Linked DNA regions of Homo sapiens. Changing the gene in region 2 together with the main gene of any one other region gives a genetic interaction. Each region holds a gene or a part of one and is shown on either strand. Other genes may lie near its edges.

Region 1 (7,441 bases), on a different chromosome or scaffold from region 2:
CCGTCTCAAAAAAAAAAAATCATTCAATCAACACAATACTAGATTAAGAGCAGCATACTCAATGAGCAGACCTCCCCATTCTCCATGCCCATAACAACTCACACACCAGGATCTTGATGGGCAGGATCCCCCTCTCATTTTTAAAATTTGGCTCTGCCCAGTTCCCAGTTCAAATCAAGCACTGGCCAATTGCAATGGAAAAGGCAAAGACTTAATTATCAGACAGATCTGCTCTAGAACCCGGGAAAGATGCCTCACCTCTGAGCTTTGGTTTCCGCATCTATACAATGGAGGTAACTGATTTCCAACGGGGATCCCACTGAGTCACCTCTCTGCCTCCTCAGGACTTGCTCTCCCAGAAACAAAGGAGTAACTCAAAAGCGTCCTTGGCGTTTACAGCTATTTCCAAGGGCATAATTAGAAACTGTTGCACAGCAAAGCCTAGAATTGAGCTCCCTGCCCCTTCCGATTTCTGAAATCTGGTGAATTCGAGATCTCAGACATCCTACCTTTAGAGGAGGAGAAAAAGAGAAAGGTAGTGGGGAGGAAGATAAAGGTGAGGGAGACTCCAGAGAGGGCAGGCTTCTTCAGTCTGCAAGAGCAACGGAAGAATTTCTAGGTGGAAAGGGGAACTCCCCCAAGCTAGAGAAGGAGGGAGTCTCAGGTTTCCTTTAATTCATTATTCTTTACACCGCAACACCACTCCCCACCCCACCCTGACCAGGTCCCCAGATGGGCACTGAGTCTAGGAAGGATCCATCAGCATCATTTATCCCTACTCCCAGTCCCCCACAGAAATCTTAGAAATCCAGTGTTCTGGTTGGCCGGGCGCGGTGGCTCACGCCTGTAATCCCAGCACTTCGGGAGGCCGAGATGGGCGGATCATGAAGTCAAGAAATAGAGACCATCCTGGCTAACATGGTGAAACCTCATCTCTACTAAAAATACAAAAAATTAGCCGGGCGTGGTGGCACATGCCTGTAGTCCCAGCTACTCAGGAGGCTGAGACAGGGGAATTGCTTGAACCCGAGAGGCAGAGTTGTGGTGAGCTGAGATCACGCTACTACACTCCAGCCTGGGCAACAGAGCGAGACTCCGTCTCAAAAAAAAAATGTGGTATACACAATGGAATACTATTCGGCCATAAAAAACAATGAAATCATGTCTTTTGCAGCAACATGAATGAAACTGAAGGCCATTAATTTGAGTGAAACAACTCAGAAACAGAAAGACAAATACTGAATCTTTTCACTTGTAAGTGGGAGCTAAATAATGTGTACACATGGACATAGCATGTGGAATTATAAACAACAGAAACTTGGAAGGGTGGGGAGGTGGGAAGGAAGTAGATGATGAGGAAATTACTTAACGAGTACAATGTGCATTATTCAGGCTATGGATACAGTAAAATGCCTGACTTCACCACTACACAATGTATCCGTGTAACAAAATTACACTTGTGGCCTGGCACTGTGGCTCATGCCTGCAATCCCAGCACTTTGGGAGGCCAATGCACATTATTCAGTTGATGGATACAGTAAAATGCCTGACTTCACCACTACACAACGTATCCATGTAAAAAAATTACACTTGTGGCCTGGCGCTGTGGCTCATGCCTGTAATCCTAGCACTTTGGGAGGCCAATGTACATTATTCAGATGATGGATACAGTAAAATGCCTGACTTCACCACTACACAATGTATCTGTGTAACAAAATTACACTTGTGGCCTGGCATGGTGGCTCATGTCTGTAATCCGAGCACTTTGGGAGACCAAGGCAGGTGGATCACTGGAGGCCAGGAGTTTGAGACCTGCCTGGCCAACGTGGTGAAACCCCATCATCTCTACTAAAAATACAAAAATTAGCCAGGTGTGGTGGCACACGCCTGTAATCCCACCTACTCAGGAGGCAGAGGCAGGAAAATCGCTTGAACCCGGGAGGCAGAGGTTGCAGTGAACCGAAATCACGCCACTGCACTCCAGCCTGGGTGACAGAGTGAGACTCTGTCTCAAAAAAAAAATATTATATTTGTACCCAATAAATTTATATGAAACAATTAAATGCTTCTGAGATCTGGCTTAATGGTTGCTCAGCCTGCATTCTGGTTCCACATGTAGGTCTGCTTGTGAAAACTCATTACAGTGTTCACCCCTGGTCTGTGTACCCTTCTGTATTTGTGTTACACTCCAATCTGAGGTTTACATTACAATAGGTCAAACCTGTGAATAAAACCTTATATTGGCTCCGGCACTGGGCAACGCAGTAATCATTAAATTAATGCTGAATGAACAGACAACTGGCTGGGAGTGGGACACGGTAGCAATAAGATGGCCTCTTAACTTTTGAGGTCTCCTGAAAAAGTGCTAGTCCAGAATGATTCACTTTCCAGATGAGCAGGAGACACCCACCCCAAGGTCACTTACTGCAGGTTTTACAGACCAGTTTAAGAAACTGCCTAAGATCAAGTAATTTAGTAAATGGCAGAGCCTGGATATGAGTCCAGGTAGTCAGGCTCCAGAATCCAGACTTTTGCCCACTACTTTATAGTGTTTGGGGGCACTACTGGCGACAGACCCTTTTGTCTCCCTCTCAGATCCAGACAGGCAGAGGTCCTGTCTTAAATCACTCTTGTGGGTTGGACAGGTCTCCTGGACACCCGGGAGTGGGAGAGCCCTGCTGCCCGAGGAGACTGGGGGTACATGAGGATGAGCACCTGACTCTGCTCGAGAAGGAGTAAGGGAGGGAAGGGGATGCATGGTGGGACCTTCGCTCCTGTCTGTCCCCTCAGGGCAAGCTGGGGCTGACGGAACCTCAGACCAGCCAGTCACTTCTTAATGAGCTCACAGCTGGACTGGCAGGCAGACAGAATATCCGTTTGGTTAACTGTATAACTGTTTGGTTGACTACAGAACTCATGGAGTGACAGGGAGAAGGCGCAACTTGAGGACGTGACAGCGCAGTTTCCTGAACATCTAACTGAATGACAGCCTGCCTAGGACTGGCTGGGGCTGGTAGCCTGACAGTGGAAAAGACAGGCAGCCTCCTGAGGACCTTGCAGGCTGGCTGACTGATGGCCCGTGGTGCTACTGCCTGCCTGGGTGGCCGGATGTTGTGAATGACTATTGTCAGGAATCACAGCTGGCGGGGGAATGTCTAGATGTTATACTGTCTGGCACCGTGTAAAGGAGGGCCACCTGGGGAAACTTCAGGCTAACTGATCAACAGACCCGTGGCTGCTTGCTAGGCAGCTGTATCTGGTGATCAACTATCCACGCTGCTCGAATCACAGCATGCTGGAGGGCCTGGCTGGGTGCTCTGACTGACTGATCACCTGACAGACGGTGCGGTCAGTCGGATGCTGAGAATGACTGACGATGTGATGAGGGGCGGATTGAACGAGTCACAGGCCAGCTGGCCAGGAGCAAAATCGGCATAGCTGTCTGACTCGATGGCTGTACGTGGTTACGGACTGTCTGCCCTGATAGAATCTCAGCTTCAACGCATCAGAGGAGACTGACTTGACCAATGGTGGGGATGAGTCGCCTGAGAAATGACAGACTGGCTGACCCACTGACAGGTGGTGTGGAGGCTTAATCCTACCTCTAGTTGCTGTGACTATTTGCTTTGAGGGCCTAGCTGGATGTTGTGACTGATCGTGGTGTGAATGAGAAGTAATCTGAGGGAAAGACAGTGACCAACTGATAGTGCCCGACAGGGCTGTATTAGATGCTGACAGTGACAGCTTGTCCCGACCTAATCACAGCCCGCCTGGGGGCATGGCTGGATGCTGCAGTCTATGAGAGGATTTAGCCAGGGAGAATCGCAGCTGGTCCCAGGGCTATGGTGGGTGGAGAGGAGGACTGATTGATCTGCTGACAACGTGAGGACAGGATGGTCTTAGGGAATGATAAGGCAGGCTGGCTAACAGTGCTGTCTGCCTGCCTCCAGGGAGTCGCCGCTGGCCAGGGCACAAATGGAAGCCAGTATTGACTGCCCAGCAGTGTGGATGGGGGCCGGGAGTCTGACTAGGCACCTGTCTGGGGCGACCGCCTGAGCAGTTGGATACGGCACTAGTCCACCTGGGAGCCCCGGCCTGCTTGGGGTTAAAATGAGATGACGGGCTGACTGACGGTGATAACAGGGAGTATGACAGGACTGAGGAACCACTGCGACTGGCTGATAACGTGATTGGCTAGCAGTGTGACAGACAGACCAGCGCACGGGCAGGGCCTCTGGCAACTTTAGCTACCGCCGCTGTCGCTCCCGCTGCCGCCGCCGCCCAGACGCACTCTGGGAAAGCGCGGCGAGCACCCGCCTCCGGGACCGAGCCGGGCGGCAGGGAGGGGTTCGGTCACGGCTCTCCGGTTGGTCCGCGCGGGTGCTGCGAGTCGGGAGCCGCGGCCAATAGGCTGCGCGTTCCCGGCCACGCCCGCGCGAGCGCTCTTCTCGCGAGGCCGGCTAGGCCCGAATGTCGTTAGCCGTGGGGAAAGATGGCGGAAAATTTAAAAGGTGAAGCAGTGGAGGCAGAGGCGCGGGCCCGCTGGCCGGGCCGGGTGGGCTGGAGGGGTGGCGTTGCCGGCTCGGGGCCCCGGCGTCCGAGGCCCCGGCGCCGGGAGCCGGAAGCTCGGCGCGGAAAGGATGAGGCTCGGGGAGCGCGGGCCTGGTGCGCGGGGCTGGGCGGGGCTCAGGGGAGGGGGCGCGCGCCTCGGAACGCAGCGGGCCTGGGGCTAAGTGGGGACGCAGGAGGGGGGCGCGCGCTGCAGATCGCGGCCGGACCGGCGCGCGCACGCGCGGGGGCTTGTCGAGGAGGCCGCGCCCGCGCGCGGGAAAATCGGCCCCTGGTGACCGTTACCCATTCGGTGTCCACGCGAGACGCCGGAAGGGGAGGGAAGATAAGGGGGACAGACCCCCCCTTCAGAGTGCGGGGACTGAGAACTCTTCTGGGGGAAAGTATCGCCTCTCGGCGTGATGGGGGAAGGGTTTGGAATAGAGGATCTCCCAGAAGAGAGAAATGGGGCCTTCCTAATAGGACAGCTGGACTCCCCCATGTGCAGGGAAAGAGGGGTGACTCAGTTATGTTGGGGGGCCCCTCTATGTGACGAAAGCCGCAGGGAGGATGGGTTCCACAAGTGGGAGGACCTCTGAGGGGTTCAGGAGAGTCCACCTGTGGCCAGTTCCGGAGCCAGCAGCTGGAGGGTGTTAATTGGGACCACTTAAGTGGGGTTTCAAATGCAAGTGAAGGAAGGGGTTTGCGAGGACAGGCTGTAGGGAGAGGAAAGCGTGGGCACAGGCGGGCTCAGTCTCCACTTGGTCTTGCCTAAGTAGGGGGGGTAGGGCTTGCACACGAAATAATTTTGAAAAGCTCTTGTACGTTTTTAGGTTGACATCTAAAGTTTAGGTGTGATTTTTGCAATGGGAGGCAGAAAATATTAAACATTTTAAAAAGATGATATAGGATGAGGACTGACTGCCCTTGGAATGTTTTGAGACATGATTTGATAAAATGGCTTCTAAAGTACTTTGATTAAGAATGTGCCTTGAATCAGAAAGAAATCTGTTTTTTAAAATCCGTGTGTCTTACAAAATTTTGGCAGTCCCAGAAATATACCAGGTATATTTAAAAGAATCAGTGTCACTAATCTGTACCGCTTTGCGTATAAATTCAGAGCATAACCCTTTGGATGAGCTTTACTCTTCACAGAAAGATGGATGAGACAGAAAGTCAAAATGCAGTGTGAAAAAATATACCTTGTGGATTTAAGGCACCCAGATTGATCATTTAAGGAGCCTTCCTGTAATGTAGTATCATTCCACAATCTCTTGCTCATAATTCCGAAATCTAAAAAGCCCTGAAAACTGAAATCCTTTTCTTAAATTTGGCACCATTTATGGCAAAAGTAGATTATAAAGTGGAACTCTTCTGTGAGGCTATTTTATATCTCTATTTCTCCTATTTAATGTGGGAAATTCATACTTTTGCTGCAGGACGGTTAATGCATTTGATTATAGCTTGATGTCCCCTGGCCACGCTGGGGGTGTTAGGTGATGTATGGGATATCCTAGAACTAGTCTTGTAAAATCCAAAAAATTTTGAATTCCAAAACACATCTGGCCCAGGAGTTTGAGATAAGGGATTAAAGACCAGTCTTTCCAGTTACGCCTTTGTTTGGTGCCCTGGAGGTTTTAATCTTGTCCTCCCATCCGCCCCACCTCGGGGCACTGCATCCTACTGAGATGGGGGGTTGTTCTCTTTCTTTTGCAAAGTGGAGAGAGGGGTGATCAGGTCCTGAACCCAAAGCAGGTTTGCAGGCAGTTTTAGGAATGACATGGAGTTTGAAGCTCTGGAAATAGATTCCTTTAGGACAATTCATGTTGCAAACCCCGCTTAGAGGTCTGCTGCTCCAGGGGCAGCTTTGGGCAGTGAGTATTGGGGTTCAAAGCACATTTCTGTTGTAGAACAGTCTCAGCACTGGGGAAGGCCTGTGGATTAAATTTCCCTGACTCTTAGTCAGTCTTTGGGATGTCCCAGGGAGGATTTGGGGTCCCCTTTGACTCCTGGCCTAGTCAGGCTGCCCAGTAATAGTTCTTTCTGCCCCGCTTGATCCAGGCTGCAGCGTGTGTTGCAAGTCTTCTTGGAATCAGCTGCAGGACCTGTGCCGCCTGGCCAAGCTCTCCTGCCCTGCCCTCGGTATCTCTAAGAGGAACCTCTATGACTTTGAAGTCGAGTACCTGTGCGATTACAAGAAGATCCGCGTGAGTCTGGGGTGACCATGCTCTGGGAGGGGACAGGTCACAAGGAAGTTAGTGTCCTGCCCTCTTGTCCCCAACTGCCCACATCTGTTTCCAAAGGGAATTTTCTCCTTTGACCCTGAAAACACAGGATGAATAGACCCTTTTATCCCTATGTTACAGATAGGGAAACTAAGTAGCTTTCTGGGCAGGAGCCGGAATGAATTCCCAAATAAATCTCTTCCCATCTCCCTAGGAATACAAAGTAATTGCAGAGATTGAGATGCTGAACCCTGGAGTGGAAATGTCAATAGCTAATGGCTATTGAGCACTTTCAGTGTGCCAGGCGTTTCCTCTCGGAAACTCATTTAATCCCCTAACAACTGAAATGGGGATAGTTATTGCCAGAAGGGGGAGTGGCAGGATGGTTAGGAGAACAAACTGGAGTCAGCATGCTTGGGTTCCAGTCCTGGTTGTGTTACCCCAGGCTACCTACCCAAACCTTCAGTACTTCATTTTCCTTGTCGTAAAAGAGGGATAACTAGGAGCATCTACCTCATGTGGGGTTGTGAGGATTAAGTTAGTTAATAATACATGTAAGCTGCCTAGAACAGGCAAGGACTTGTCAGGGTCCAGGTGAGCCAGGGTGGTGGCAGTGATGATGGTTTGTCACTGGACGTATTTTGAAGGTGGGGCCAACGGGATGTGCA
Region 2 (7,469 bases):
CCAGTGTTTTGTTGTTGTTGTTGTTTGTTTGCTTTTTTGAGATGGAGTCTCACTCTGTCGCCCAGGCTGGAGTGCAGTGGCACAATCTTGGCTCACTGCGACCTCCGCCTCCCAGGTTCAAGTAATTCTCCTGCCTCAGCCTCCCAAGTAGCTGGGGTTACAGGCGCCTGCCACCACACCTGGCTAATTTTTGTATTTTTAGTAGAGACGGGGTTTCACCATGCTGGCCAGGCTGATCTTGAAGTCTGGACCTCAAGCAATCCGCCCACCTCTGCCTCCCAAACTGCTGGGATTACAGGTGTGAGCCACCAAGCCCGGCCAAGTGTCACATTTATGTTGAAAGGTGGAGGGGCAGCCAAGAAGGCAGGTGCTGGGGAGGCAGGCAGAAAGGGCTTGAGGGGACAGAGTGGATGGGTGGGAGAAATTTAGCGGGGCAGGACGGGAAATGAGGGGCTCAGTTCCCGGCGAAGCCCTTCTGTTTGCTGATGTGGCAGCTGCTGAGGGGGTGGGAAGAGGTCGGGGCCTGGACATGCTGAGGCCGAGCTGCCTGGGGGTTGTCCAGGGAGAGGGGTCTGGTCGCTCCCCAGCCTGGCAGGCATGGGACTAAAGATAAGGCAGGTCGAGAACAGTTTTGGGGTTTCAGGGATGGCGCAGCCATGGAGGATATGGTGAGCCTCATCCACAGAGAATGCGGAGAGGCTGGCCAAGGATGGAGCCCAGCGCCAGCTCTGGAGGGGCAGGTAGGGAAGGGCCTGAGCAGGGGATCCCCCAGGTTCCCAAATCTGCTGCTGCGGCTTCTGCTGCTGCCTCCCCACTCGGCCCTCAGCCTTCCACACTGCCACCAGCTCTGTCCTTTCAAAACACAAGTGCAATCAAATCGTTCGCCCCACCAATAAAGAAAAACCAGCAAAAATTCCCTGTCCTCAAGAGGCTTTTTTTTTTTTTTTTTTTTTTTTTTTGAGACGGAGTCTCGCTCTGTCACCCAGGCTGGAGTGCAGTGGTGTGATCTTGACTCACTGCAAGCTCCGCCTCCTGGGTTCACGCCATTCTCCTGCCTCAGCCTCCCAAGTAGCTGGGACTACAAGCGCCCTCCACCATGCCCGGCTAATTTTTCTGTATTTTTAGTAGAGTTTCACCGTGTTAGCCAGGATGGTCTCGATCTCCTGACCTCATGATCCGCCCGCCTTGGCTTCCCAGAGTGCTGGGATTACAGGCGTGAGCCACCGTGCCCAGCCCTCACAAGGTTTTTAATCTGGGACAGGTGGAGGACAGCCCCAGCGAGGGGCTGCGTTTCAGGCCCTGAGATGACAGGACAGTTGCTGCCCCTGTGAGCCACAGTCCTGCCTCCCGCCAGCTTGTGGGGAGGGTGTATCCTCTGCCCTCAGGCATCAGCCTGGCTGCTGCTTCTGCACCTGCCCAGCCCACCAGAGAGGAGGCCCCGTCTGTGATTCCCAGGGTCCCTGGTGCTTGTTGCATGTGAGTCCATTCTTAGTTGGAGAAGCTGCTTCTGGGGAGCGACGGGGCTGCCCCAGCACCGCTTATGATGGACACAGGTGAAGGGGAGACACAAGTTTCCAAATGTGCGAGGGCTGGGCCATAGGAGGGGGCGGTGGCCTTGGGGAATGCTTGTGAGAAGCAAAAGAAGCTAGGGTGGCAACTGGCTGGACAAACAGCATCTTGGGGTTTTTTCCTTTTTTTTTTTGAGATGGGGTTGCGCTCTATCTCCCAGGCTGGAGTGCAGTGGCGTGATCTCGGCTCACTGCAACCTCCGCCTCCCGGGTTCAAGCAACTCTCCTGCCTCAGCTTCCCGAGTAGCTGGGATTACAGGCACGCGTCACCATGCCTGGCTAATTTTTTGTATATTTAGTAGAGACGGGGTTTCACCATGTTGTGCAGGTTGGTCTCAAACTCCTGACGCCAAGTGATCCACCCGCCTGGGCCTCCCAGAGTGCTGGGATTTACAGGCATGAGCCACCACGCCCGGCCTTTGGGGGGTTTTGTTTGAGTGTTTTATGATGGCAGAGGTAAGTTTGACTCTGATAGCAAGGAATCCATAGACAGGGAAGGATGGAGTTTGGCGGCGGGCACTGACAGTGAATGATGGCCTGAGATGAGGAGTGGGCAGGGGGGCAGAGCCCTGTGGTAATGGAGGGAGGGGTGGTGTGAGAGGTGTAAGATGGGGGCTTGGTGCTCCCATCTGATAGCTTCTATTTGCTCTCTGAGGAGCAGCCAATTATCTCAGAGACACTGGAAGTGGGGTGAGAGGTTCGAGGAGAGTGCAGACTGCAAGACAGCTGACCAGAAATCAGCAGGCTGGGCGGTAGGGAGGGGCATCCATCCATCTGAGACACTGAGCCACTGTGGATGGTTGTTCCCAAGGGCCTGGTGGAAGCATGACAGTGGAGAGAGTGCGACGCAGGGTCCCCAGAGTCTCAGAGAGAGTGGAGAGTGCGGTGCAGGGTCCCTAGAGTCTCTCCGAAGAGAGCCAGCCCTGGGCTCAAGCACTAGCCCAGACTTGCCCCGGGCCCCTGCCAGCCTGCACACAAGCTCAGTGGTGTGGTAGTGTGGTGCTGAGGACCTTTTTGGGTACAAGTGACAGAAACCAACTTGAGCCAGCTGGGGCAAAAAGGAGGATTTCTGGCAGGGCACAGTTTCTCACACCTGTAATCCCAACACTTTTTGAGGCAGATGCAGGAGGATCATTTGAGGACAGGAGTTCAAGACAAGCCTAGGTAACTTATCAAGACCCTGTCTCTACAAAAAAATTAAATTTTAAAAAGATGATTTCTCAACCTGTGAAAACCAACAGTGGGAGAGGAGAGGCGTAGCGTGGCCTGTGCCTGAGGGCAGGGAGGGGACCCTGGTGGGGCCTCTCAGTTTGATTCCATTCATTCTCTTGGGCTGGCTCCTGCCCATGGATGGAGACTGGATGCCAGTCATTTGGCCAGTTCTTGCAGCAGCCAAACTCATTTAAAAACAGACCTTCAGGGCCAGGCGCGGTGGCTCACACCTGTAATGCCAGCACTTTGGGAGGCCGAGATGGGCGGATCACGAGGTCAGGAGATCGAGACCATCCTGGCTAACACAGTGAAACCCTGTCGCTACTAAAAATACAAAAAATTAGCTGGGCGTGGTGGCAGGTGCTTGTAGTCCCAGCTACTCGGGAGGCTGAGGCAGGAGAATGATGTGAACCTGGGAGGCGGAGTTTGCAGTGAGCCAAGATCACGCCACTGTACTCCAGCCTGGGCGACAGAGCGAGACTCTGTCTCAAAACAAACAAACAAAAACAAACAAAAAACAAAAAACAGACCTTCGGGCTGGGGGCGGTGGCTCATGCCTGTAATCCCAGCACTTTGGGACGCCATGGTGGGTGGATGGCCTGAGGTCAGGAGTTCAAGACCAGCCTGGCCAACATGGTGAAACCCCCTCTCTACTAAAATACAAAAATTAGCCGGGCATGGTGGTGCACACCTGTAATCCCAGCTACGCGGGAAGCTGAGGCGGGAGAATTGCTTGAACCCAGGAGACGGACGTTCCAGTGAGCCAAGATGGTGTCACTGCACTTCAGCCTGGGTGACGGATTGAGACTCTGCCTCAAAAACAAAACAAAACATAACAAAAAACAGACCTTGGCCTGCTGTGCTCAGAGGGGTTTCCCTGCTGCACCAGGCTGGCTCCTGCACCTTCTCTCCCAGCATGTTCTGCTCTGGGCTCATGCTCATCCCTGAGCCACTTCAGGGGTGGCCCTGGCCAGCCCTGCCCTTGAGAGGGGTGGGCACTGTCAGGGATCCTGGGGGATGCAGCTTTCCCAGAGCCCCCTGCTCCGTGGCCTCATGTGCCTCACACGCTTAGAACATTTGCTCTTTACAGGGGGACATGAGCGTGCCGTTTTTAAGCTGTGTTAAATGTCTCACTTGGCCTAGATGGGGGCTCTTCAGCCTGGGACCCCAAGGGCAGGGCCTGAATTCTCTCTCTGTTCCCCATCGCCAGGCTGGCAGCCCCTGAGGTGATGGCCCTGCGCCTCCTCTGACTTCTAGTTTGGGGGGCCCGGTAGGCAGCGCCTAGGCTTCTCCCGCCTTTCTCCCGCTGGACAGAGAGGGGCGGGGGACGAGGAGTCTGGGGACCCGATCCCCAGATTGGGACGGCCCAGGGGTGGGGTTCGGGCTCCTGTGCGGGGAGTCCCAACGGCGAGGGCAGCTGTGGTCCTGGCCCATGCCTCCCGCCGACACCACAGCCGACCCGGGTCAGGGCGTCAGACCCGCCGGAGCCGTAGTCCAGGTGCCCGGCCCGAGGGGCGGTGCTCGGGCCCCAGAGTGGTCAGCGATGGGCGGGGCGCTGCTCTCGGGAGCCGCCCTCCCACCCTCTGGACCAATGGAGATGCGCGGTTGCAGGCCCCGCCCGCTCAGGGCTTGACGACAGCGCGCAGGCGCACGGCGCGCCCGGGCGGGCCGGCTGGCTGGGAAGATGGCGGCGGGAACCTGGGCCGCCGCCGCCGCCGCCGCCGCCGCCGCGGAGCGAACCAGGGGTGTCCGGGGTGCGCGGTCCAGGGCCGGGGCCGGGCCATGAGCGCGCCGTCCTCGAGTCCCCGAGCCGCGGAGCCCGCCCGCGCCCCTCGGGCCGCCCCGCGTCCCTCGCCATGGCGCGGCTCGCGGACTACTTCGTGCTGGTGGCGTTCGGGCCGCACCCGCGCGGTGAGTGCCGAGGCCAAGCGCTGAGGGCCGGGGGCCGAGGGTCGAGTGCTGAGGGCCAGGGGCTGGGTCTGAGGGTCGAGGGCCGGGGGCTGGGGGCCGAGGGCTGGGGGCTGGGTCGGGAGGCCGAGGACTGAGGGCCGGGCGCTGAGGGCCGAGGACCGGGGGCTGGGCGCTGAGGGCCGGGGTCGGGGGAGCCGAGGACTGAGGGCCGGGGCCGGGGGCCGGGCGGGGACTGAAGGCCAGGGCCGACCGGACAGCCCGTGGGGAGAATGGGCGTCCGCTGGGGGCGGCGTGGCCGCGCGGGCCTGGTGGCGGCAGGGAGAGAAGGCTGGGCCCGGCCTGCCCGGCCTCCTTGGGGTGGGACGGGCTCTCTCCTTGGCCAGCTGCGGGCGGCTGTGGCTCTAGTGGCTCCAGGGGCGCGGACCCGCGGCTCGCCAGCCCGCCTCTGACCTTGGTGCTCCGTCTGAAGCCCCCGGCGGTCTTGGCGGGGTGCAAAGAGGGGGTGGAGTTCGGGTTTGGTGCATGGAGAAGCGGTGTTTGATTTGAAACTGGGAGGATTTGAGGAGGAAGCGTCGAGAGTAGAGAGAAGAGCATTCCTGGCGACTCGCCTGACGGTCCAGGCCCTGCACGCCAAGCCCTGGGTGGGGTATCAGCGTGGCGGTCGGTGCCCATGCCCAGGAGGTCTGTGTGTGGGGTCAGCGCCCGTGTCTGAGAGCTCTTCAGCCCAGGAGGTAGGAGAAAACGGAGCCTGACGATGACATCAGCAACAGCCTGGAGACAGCAGCGTTGGCGAGCGTGCTTGGTGTGCCAGGCCCCGCACAGCCCTTTGTGTACATGATCTCACCTCTTCCTCCCAGCAGCCCACCGGGGTTGCCCTGGTGTTGCCCCCATCTGTAGAGAAGTTAGGCGCGGATAAGCTGACTGCCTGGCCTGAGCCGGCTCAGAGAGGCTGGGACTGGCACTCAGGCTGTCAGATCCCAGCTGCAGACTGGCAGTGTGTGGGGATGGCTGTGTGGTCAGGCAGGGGCTGGATCTTGAGCCTGGAGGTGGGATTGAGCTTGCCTTCCCAGTTACCCTGTTTTTTGTCAGTCCAGTTGTCACTGTCCCCACCAAGGACCTGGAGTTCTCTCTTTTTTGTGTTTCTTCTGCTGGACACCCCCCTACACTTCCTGAAGCCTCTTTAGCATCTTCTTCGTCTCCAGCCCCTCCTCAGTGCCCTCTTACTCAGCACACACTCCTCTCTGCTCATGTCTATCCAAGTGTGTGTCTTATGGCACCGTCAGTCATGAGCATCTGTCTTTTTCTTTAGAGAGGGAGTTCTCGCTTGCTAGGACCACATAGTCCTCATCCCCACTGTGCAGGTTGGCTGTCAATGTTGTCTTGACCCACAGAGGGAGCTGTCTGCACCGAGGCACCTATGAGGGGCATGGAGGAGGCCTTACCACCTGGGGCAGAGGGTGCCTGAGGATCCAGGGAAGCAAGGCTGGCTGAGGGCTGTCTTGGCGTGAGGGGCCTTGGGCTGAGGGCTGGGGCGGGGGCTACAGGAACAGCTGATAATGACCCTGATGATCCTGAGGGCAGTGTGGAGAGGGTTTGGGTTGGTAGAGACTGCAGGCAAAGGCCAGGTGGGAGGCGTGGTGGCCGTGGGGTGAGGAGTTGAAGGTAGGCAGAGAGAAGAGGCAGAGTGGGCTCCACAACAAGCTGGCTGTGACGTGTGTGCTCACTGCTGGAGCCACACGTAGTGCAGGCACCTGTTTGTGTGTGTCCTTTGCGCAGGACAGGGTAGAAGGCTGGAGCCCAAGGTGCCCCCCCTTCCCCTAAGTGACCGGAAGGAGTGATAAGTGGTCCACTGCAGTAGGGTTGGAGGACCGTGGAGCCCTGTACCCACTACCTTCTGGGGTTGAGCTGGTCAGCTGCTTGCTGGCCTTGCAGCCCCAGGCACCCCTTAGAAGGACTTGTTCATTCTTGAGGGGAACAAGGCTATAGACTGGGACCCTGGTCATGGGCTGAGGGCAGAGCCAGGTACCAGGGCCGGTGGGAGCTGGGGGAAGAAGCAGAGGAGTGTGGCGTGGGGGTCACTTGTCTCTGCTTTGCCCCTTGATAGCCTTGTGACTTCGAGCCAGTTGTTTGGCTCTCTGTGCCTCAGTTTCCTCATCTGGGGATGGAGTGAGTCATGCTAACCTCCCAGGCTGCCGTGAGGATGCAGCGAATGCACAGGTGTGAAGCAGTAGCACACAGGAGGCCCTGGAAATGATGAGTTTCTTTCATTAGTGACTGAGCAGCAGGTGTGTGAACTCTCTAGGCACAGACACAACAGGCACTTCTGAGTGGGTAGAGGATCCTCTCTGTTCTGTCAGGCTAGGACTTCAGGGCGGGATGCAGGGTCTCTTGGGTTGGGGATTAGGATTGGCGGATAGCTTGTCTTGGCCTGGATCTGGACATCCTGTCTGGAGCTGCTGGGTGCAGCACCAGGGTGCTGAGGGTGCATGAGTCCTGCCTGAGGCAGCATCCCAGTTGCTAGTGGTTACCAGCTGGAAACCTCTCAGGAAAGGTGGGGAGGGGCCCTGAGAAGGTAAATGCCTGTGCTGGCCGTGACCCTTTCACCTCAGAGAGTGATGGTGGCCAGCGCTGGCCCATCTGCAGGCCCCTCACCTGGTGAGTCAGGGATCACCTTCTGTGCTCTGGGGCAGGCATCAGGACTAGACAGACTGCCTCTGCCCGGCTCTTGGCCTGATCACAGCGTGGCCAGTGCTGAGGTGTCTTTGAGAACAGGAGACA

The links. Genes that interact genetically often act in the same process or in processes that back each other up.
Region 1: of SBF1 (region 2) and SUV39H1, a change in one rescues a mutant of the other (synthetic rescue), as found in Homo sapiens cells (one study listed by BioGRID).

The regions. Positions count from the first base shown.
Region 1 is NC_000023.11:48,692,293-48,699,733, forward strand, and holds the start of SUV39H1 (histone-lysine N-methyltransferase SUV39H1), read left to right. Parts: upstream 1-4,441; 5' UTR 4,442-4,492; coding exon 4,493-4,511; intron 4,512-6,609; coding exon 6,610-6,755; intron 6,756-7,441. UniProt on the Homo sapiens protein: Histone methyltransferase that specifically trimethylates 'Lys-9' of histone H3 using monomethylated H3 'Lys-9' as substrate. Also weakly methylates histone H1 (in vitro).
Region 2 is NC_000022.11:50,472,008-50,479,476, reverse strand, and holds the start of SBF1 (myotubularin-related protein 5), read left to right. Parts: upstream 1-4,441; 5' UTR 4,442-4,636; coding exon 4,637-4,691; intron 4,692-7,469. UniProt on the Homo sapiens protein: Acts as an adapter for the phosphatase MTMR2 to regulate MTMR2 catalytic activity and subcellular location. Promotes the exchange of GDP to GTP, converting inactive GDP-bound Rab proteins into their active GTP-bound form.